Homo sapiens: one gene and its partner. The protein of the gene in region 1 purifies or fractionates together with the protein of each later gene. This does not show direct contact. Each region holds a gene or a part of one and is shown on either strand. Other genes may lie near its edges. The genes, in order: SMYD4 and ECD.

Region 1 (3,820 bases):
AGCTCCGCCTCCCGGGTTCACGCCATTCTCCTGCCTCAGTCTCCCGAGTAGCTGGGACTACAGGTGCCCACCACCAAGCCCGGCTAAATTTTTGTGTGTGTTATTTATTTTTTTTTTTTAGTAGAGACGGGGTTTCACCGTGTAAGCCAGGATGGTCTCGATTTTCTGACCTCATGATCCGCTCGCCTCAGCCTCCCAAAGTGCTGGGATTACAGGCGTGAGCCACCGTGCCCGGCCTTGATGACAAACATTTCTAGTAGTTATGAAAAAGTCCTCAGAAAACCAATAGAAGGCCAGGTGCGGTGGCTCACGCCTGTAATCCCAGCACTTTGGGAGGGCGAGGCGGGTGGATCCATGAGGTCAGGAGATCGAGACCATCCTGGCTAACACGGTGAAACCCCGTCTCTACTAAAAATACAAAAAATTAGCCGGGCATGGTGGTGGCGGGCGCCTGTAGTCTCACCTACTCGGGAGGCTGAGGCAGGAGAATGGCGTGAACCCGGGAGGTGGAGCTTGCAGTGAGCCGAGATTGCACCACTGCACTCCAGCCTGGGTGACATGAGAGAGACTCTGTCTCACAAAAGAAAAAGAAAAAAAAAAAAAAAAGAAAACCAATAGAAAGGCTGGGCGTGGTGGCTCACGCCTGTAATCCCAGCGCTTTGGGTGGTCGAGGCAGGTAGGTCGCTTGAGGCCAGGAGATCGAGACCAGCCTGGCCAACATGGAGAACATGGCCAACTCGTCTCTACTAAAAATACAAAGATTAGCTGGGCATGGTGGTGCATGCCTGTAATCCCAGCTACTGGGGAGGCTGAGGCAGGAGAATTGCTTGAGTCTGGGAGGTTGAGGCTGTGGTAAGCAGAGATCGTGCCACTGCACTCACTTCAGCCTGGATGACAGGGCAAGACCCCATCTCAAAAAAAAAAAAGAAAAAAAAAAAAACTAATAGAAAAAGGTGCTAGGTGCGATCGTCCTACATTTGACCTTGGGTCTCCAAGTTTAGCTTTCTAACACAACCGGCTCTGCCTTTCACTCATGACTCCCCTAAGAAGAATACGGCACTTGTGGCAGAGGGGAAACCTCCGAGGTGGACATCTGCTGTGTTTCAAAGGCCGATATCTATTTTCTCATTTGGCAACAGCAACCCAACCCAGTTTCTCATAAGGATCCCTCTCACCCTCAGTCCCATGGCCCTTGCCCTACAGCTGAGGGTGTGGCATGTGGCTCACATATGGCTCCTTCCTCTGGCCCAAATGGCTGGAGGAAAACTATGTCTAATTTTCCTCCAGCCACAGTTCTCAGGTCAATGAAACACAGTAACATCTCTGCCCAGGCTGCTGTTTGAGTGGCATGTGCTCTTATCCTCCTTGGCAGGAAATCCGCAGGCTGGGCTGCTGGCAGCCATCCTGCATCGTAAGAGGGAAGTCTATCTGAGGATGGGCTAACACAGAGAAAATGAAGCTGAGAGGGGTGGACAGAAAGCCCCTGGATCAAGCTGTATCTTAAGCAGCCTTATCCTGGAATTTTTCTCATAACATTTTTTTTGGTAGAGACAGGGTCTTGCTATGTTGCCCAGGCTGGTCTTGAACCCCTGGCCTCCAAGTGATCTGTCCACCTCAGCCTCCCAAAGTGCTGGGATAATAGGCATGTGTCACTGTGCCCAGCCTATCCTGGGACTTTTCAATGACTGACTTCAGCAAATAAATTCCCAGTCTCCCCCAGATCCCAAACCAGTTCAGATGGGATCTTCTGTCCTTTATAAAGGAAACATTACTAAATTGAACCTTTCCCTGTGGTTTCTCTGGAGGGGAACTAGTGTATGGGGATGACTGGCTAAAATGGAGGTGATATTACTGGTCTCAGCACTTACAAGTCCCTGATGGCTTCCTCCTAAACACTGATCACCCTTGGGGTGGAAAACTGACCTCCAGGAAAAGTGGAGGAGACAGAAGAGAGAATTACCTGCATGGGCGCTCCGCAACTGTTGCAACAGAATGCTTCCCACCTGGGCCCTGCAGCCATCCTGTGTGCCTCAGTTTGACAAGCTGGACAGGCGCAGTCAAAGAAATACTGAGACCTCAGCTTCTGCTGCCTTTCGGCAACCCCCATCCGGCTCTTGTGAGGCCCTGGAGGGAGATCACCGTCAGCCAATATTGAAAGCAAGAGAGAGTCAAACACTACGTAAAAACCTTCAGCTTAGCAGAGGGTCTGGACAATTACCTATCATGTGACAGCTAACCTTTACCCAAATATTTGTGGAACTGGATACTAAAATAAGCTTCCAAGTTGCTGAGACAGGAAGAAAGAGAAGCCAAGAAGTTGTTCCTAGCCCATTTTCAGAATAGGAAGTTTATAGTGATTAAACAGCGAGACATAGTTTAGCCGCAATAGGGCCCTAGCACGAAGGCCATTCCTTCCATCCTCCCTTCCTTGTTTTTGGCCTAAGTGTTCACTGCCTCTTCCAGGAAGCAGACAGTAGACAGGTGAAGTCACATGCCTGGTGGCTTGCTGACTTGCGTCCCCGTCCTTTTCTGTTGGAGAAGGGCAGGATGGCAGTGCGGAGGGATGGCTCACCATAGCAGTGGAGAATCTCTTGCCCCTTTCTAATCCGCTGTGACGCCCGGATGGTGGCGACAGTGCTAATGAAGGACACGCTGGTGTTGGGGCTACAGGAGTGGTTCAGGAGGCTGATAACAGGGAAGATGCCTGTGGCAAGGCGCACCTGCCTGCTGTCGGTAACGATGCTCCCTTTAGGTCCTGAAAGGGCAAGAGGAAAGAAGGAAAAAGGTGTCAGCACATGAGCCCTGGCCTTGCCCTCTGTTCCTCAGAAGATGAGCTGGGCAGCTAGGCCTGCAGCCCGTGTGAGTCATGGCTCCACAGCCAGATCCAATATAAATCAGATGGGACATGACTCACGGCAAGCTCCAGTCCCCAGGAAGCAAAGTGGATGAACGCACACAAAGTCCACTGGAGTCCTGGAACCTAACGACTGTGTCTCTACACCACGAAATAGCCAAAGATAAGAACTTATAAAGAAGTAATAAAAAAGGGATGATAAGTAGGGAGCGTTCTAGATAGTTTCATAATGTTCTCACATAGAAACCAGAGCCCCTGTTGAGGTGACTTCCCAAAGACTTTTAGAGCCCAAGGGCTTTTGTTTATCTGGTCTTTGGTTGGTTAACAGAACAAGCGACCTAGTTACTACCCCAAACTTTATATATTTAAGCAGGCCAGGCACCAGGGCTCCTGCCTGAAATCCCGAGGCTCACGCAGAAGAATTGCTTGAGCCCAGGAGTTCAAGGCCAGCCTGGACAACACAGCTAGATTTGGTCTCTAAAAAAAAAAAATTAAAATATTAGCCAGCTGTGGTGGTGCACACCTGTAGTCCCAGCTACTCAGGAGGCTGAGGTGGGAGGATCAGTTGAGCCCTAGAGAGCGAGGCTGCAGTGAGCCAGGATTGCACCACTGCACTCCAGCCTGGGTGACAGAGCAGGCCCTGTCTGAAGAAAAATAAATAAAAATTTAAAAAAAGTTTTACTCTAATTGTAACATTTATTATTTTTTTCTTTTTTGGTCTTTTCAGGCCCATAGTTTACTTTAAAATTTTGTTCATTTTGGCCGGGCGCGGTGGCTCACGCCTGTAATCCCAGTACTTTGGGAGGCCGAGGCGGGCAGATCACAAGGTCAGGAGATCGAGACCATCCTGACTAACACGGTGAAATCCCGTCTCTACTAAAAACACAAAAAATTAGCTGGGTGTGGTGGTACGTGCCTGTAGTCCCAGCTACTCAGGAGGCTGAGGCAGGAGAATCGCTTGAACCC
Region 2 (3,820 bases), on another chromosome or scaffold:
CCCGTCTCTACTAAAAATACAAAAATTAGCTGGGCATTGTGGCACGTGCCTGTAATCCCAGCTACTCGGGAGGCTGAGGCAGGAGAATTGCTTGAACCCGGGAGGTGGAGGTTGCAGTGAGCTGCCCCAGCATGGGCGACTGAGCAAGACTCCATCTCAATAAATAAATAAAATAAAATAAAATAAAAATAAATAAATTGGAGGATAGAAGCTCAGAGATCTACACAATTGGCCTTCCTTTTTGGCTCTGAAGCAGGCTCCATGGAACATCATTATGAAGCCACTGATCTCGTATAATTCTTTCTATACATACATGCAGAGACAGGGTCTCTCTCTATATATGTATATATATGTACATACAGTTGTATTATGTTAATAGTACATATACATATAAAACACGTACTAAAAATACATAAAAATATACATATAATATATATTTTATATACGAGGAAAAGAAGATCCAGAAGGAAAGCATCAATTAAAATTTATCTAGCATGTATTAAATGCTATGCTAACACTTTAAATACATTTTCTTATTGAGTCCTTTTGTTACTATTATAGAAGGTAATAATCCTGTTTTACAGATGAGAAAACCAGAACCCAGGGAAGTTCTTTAACTTTTGCAAAGTCTGTATTACCCAGGAGGCGGAGGTTGCAGTGAGCCAGGATTGTGCCATTGCACTCCAGGCTGGGCGACAAGAGCGAGACTCCGTTGGCCGGGTGCGGTGGCTCACGCCTGTAATCCCAGCACTTTGGGAGGCCAAGGCGGGCGGATCACGAGGTCAGGAGATCGAGACCATCCTGGCTAACACAGTGAAACCCCGTCTCTACTAAAAAAAAAAAAAAAAAAAAAAATTAGCTGGGCGTGGTGGTGGGTACCTGTTGTCCCAGGTACTCAGGAGGCTGAGGCAGATGAATGGCGTGAACCCAGGAGGTGGAGCTTGCAGTAAGCCAGGATCGCGCCACTGCACCTCCAACCTGGGCACAGAGCAAGACTCCGTCTCAAAAAAAAAAGAGACTCCATAAAAAGAAAAAAAATCCTCATTCTTTAAGACTTAACTCAAATACCTCCTCCCTGAAGCCTTCCATTATCTTTCTTTTTTTAACATCTCTGCTTCAACCTTAGTGAAAGTTTATTACCTTCTCACTATGACTCTCTTTAGCATTTGATATTCCAGAATGATTTTTATTTTGCCTTTTGTTATGATTATTTGGTTTATTCTCTCTCCTAGTAACGTTTACATATTAATAATACAGAGTAGAGACAGTTCCCCATCACCTACGTGATTTTGCAAGGTATGCAAATGTTTATCCAATTAAAGCAAGTCCTTTATACAACTTGATTTGATCCATTCTTAATAGTTCAGACAGGGTGCCATCAATTTATGTAACAAATCATGTCACCATTATGTCACTCACTCAACACATAAGTATCTCTGTGCATAGTTTCTTTTTTTTCTTTTTCTAAGACAGGGTCTCACTCTGTCGCCTAGGCTAGAGTGCGTGGCATGATCACAGCTCACTGCAGCCTTGACTCTTGGGATCAAGCAATCTTCCTATCTCAGCAAGTAGCTGGGATTACAGGCATTAGCCACTGTGCCTGGCTATTTATTTATTTTTAATTTGAGTAGCTGGGATTACAGGTGCCCACCACCTCATCCGGCTAATTTTTTGTATTTGTAGTAGAGATGGGGTTTCACCATGTTGGCCAGGTTGGTCTCAAACTCCTGACCTCAGGTGATTCACCCATCTCGGTCTCCCAAAGTGCTGGGATTACAGGTGTGAGCCACTGTGCCCGGCCTATTTGTTTATTTTTAATTGACAAAAAAGTGTATAGGTTTATCATGTACCTTAAAAATATTGTAGAGATGTAATCCCAGCACTTTGGGAGGCTGAGGAGGGCAGATCACAGGTCAGGAGATCGAGACCATCCTGGCCAACATGGTGAAACCCTGTCTGTGCTAAAATACGAAAAGATTAGCCAGGTATGATGGCACGCGCCTGTAGTCCCAGCTACTCAGGAGGCTGAGGCAGGGGCATCGCTTGAACCCGGGAGGTGGAGGCTGCGGTGAGCTGAGATCGTGCCACTACACTCCAGCCTGGTGACAGAGAGAGACTCCATCTCAAAAAAAAAAAAAAAAAAAAAAATTGTAGAGAAAGCTAATGTTTCCTTTGATGACCACTGCCACCCATCCCAATCCATTGTCTTGCTCCCCAGAGGTGACTGCTTTCTCAAGTATACTTCGGCACTTTTCTCTCTCTCTGTATGTATATATATTTCTGTTTCTATTTCTTGTATTTGCTGTCTGTCCTTTTGCTGGAATGTTATTCCCCTAAATAACTGAATGTCTCACTCCTTCACTTCATTCAGGTCTCTTTTCAAAGAAAACTTCCTTAGAAAGGCCTTCCTTGACTAATCTATCTAGAAGAGCAGTCTCTACCCCTCTACCCCACACACTGCTTTTTCTTCATAGCACTTACCACCCCCTAATATTACATAATGGCTTGCGGTCTTTCTCCTACATTAGCATGTAAGCTCTATAAGGACAAGGACACTTTGGGTTCATTTATTATATCCCCAGTACCTGGAATAGGGCCTGGCACATAGGAGGCATTCAATAAATATTTGTTGAATAAATGAATATATATGTATCTATAAATAATGTATTGTTTTGTTTTGAGACGGAGTCTTGCTCTGTCACCTAGGCTGGAGTGCAGTGGTGCGATGTCGGCTCACTGCAACCTCCACCTCCAGGGTTCATGCGATTCTCCTGCCTCAGCCTCCCGAGCAGCTGGGATTACAGGGGCGTGCCAACACGCCCAGCTAATTTTTGAATTTTTAGTAGAGACAGGGTTTCCCATATTGGCCAGGCTGGTCTTGAACTCCTGACCTCGTGATCCACCCGCCTTGGCCTCCCAAAATGCTGGCATTACAGGTGTGAGCCACTGCGCCCAGCCTGTATAGTATTTTGTATATTTAAAATTTTTATATGTGTAACATCCACACGGTATATATTTTATTCTTTTTCATTTTCATTTTTAATTTTTGTGGGTACATAGTAGGTGTATATATTTATAGGGTATATGAGATGTTTTGATACAGGCATGTAATGTGAAATAAGTACATCATGGAGAATGGGGTATCCATCCTCTCAAGCATTTATCCTTCGAGTTACAAACAATCCAATTACACTCTATGTTAAATGTATAATTAAGTTATCATTGACTATAGTCACCCTGTTGTACTATCAAATAGTAGGTCTTACTCATTCGTTCTATTTTTTTTTTTTTTTGGTACCCATTACTGTACGTATTTATAACTTGCTTTTTTTTTTTTTTTCACTGCATTATGTTTTTGAAATCTATTCATTTAGATCAGTGGTTCCCATTTAGATCAGTGGTTCCCAACCAGGGACGATTTTGCCGCCCAGGTACCTCTGGCAATGTCTGGAGACATTTTTGGTTGTCATGATTGGGGGATGAGGGAGAAGTGCTATTGATATTTACTGGATAGAGGCCAGGGATGCTGTTAAATGTCCTATGAAGTGCAAGCCAGTCCCTCACAATAAATTATCAGATCCAAAATGTCAGTAGCACTGAGGTTGAAAAATCCTAAATCAGATATATGTAAATATAGTTCATCTCTGGTTAACTACTAGATAGCAGGCTATCATATAAGTACACTGCAATTCATTTATCCATTATTGATGGATACTTTGGTTGCTTATAATTTTTCACTATTACAATCTCTGATAAATTAGGGGAAAGTCTATGATATTATACGTAGGAGCTAAAAACAATTCTAAACTGAGAGACAGAG

The links.
Region 2: the proteins of SMYD4 (region 1) and ECD purify together in Homo sapiens (affinity purification with mass spectrometry; one large-scale study listed by BioGRID and IntAct). This does not show direct contact.

Annotation. Positions count from the first base shown.
Region 1 is NC_000017.11:1,784,850-1,788,669, forward strand, and holds part of SMYD4 (protein-lysine N-methyltransferase SMYD4), read right to left. Parts: intron 2,756-3,820; coding exon 2,573-2,755; intron 2,125-2,572; coding exon 1,961-2,124; intron 1-1,960. UniProt on the Homo sapiens protein: Protein-lysine N-methyltransferase. Monomethylates PRMT5, modulating its transcriptional activity. May also act as a histone methyltransferase. Plays a critical role in cardiac development.
Region 2 is NC_000010.11:73,140,508-73,144,327, forward strand, and holds part of ECD (protein ecdysoneless homolog), read right to left. Parts: intron 979-3,820; coding exon of another isoform or gene 880-978; intron 1-879. UniProt on the Homo sapiens protein: Regulator of p53/TP53 stability and function. Inhibits MDM2-mediated degradation of p53/TP53 possibly by cooperating in part with TXNIP. May be involved transcriptional regulation. In vitro has intrinsic transactivation activity enhanced by EP300.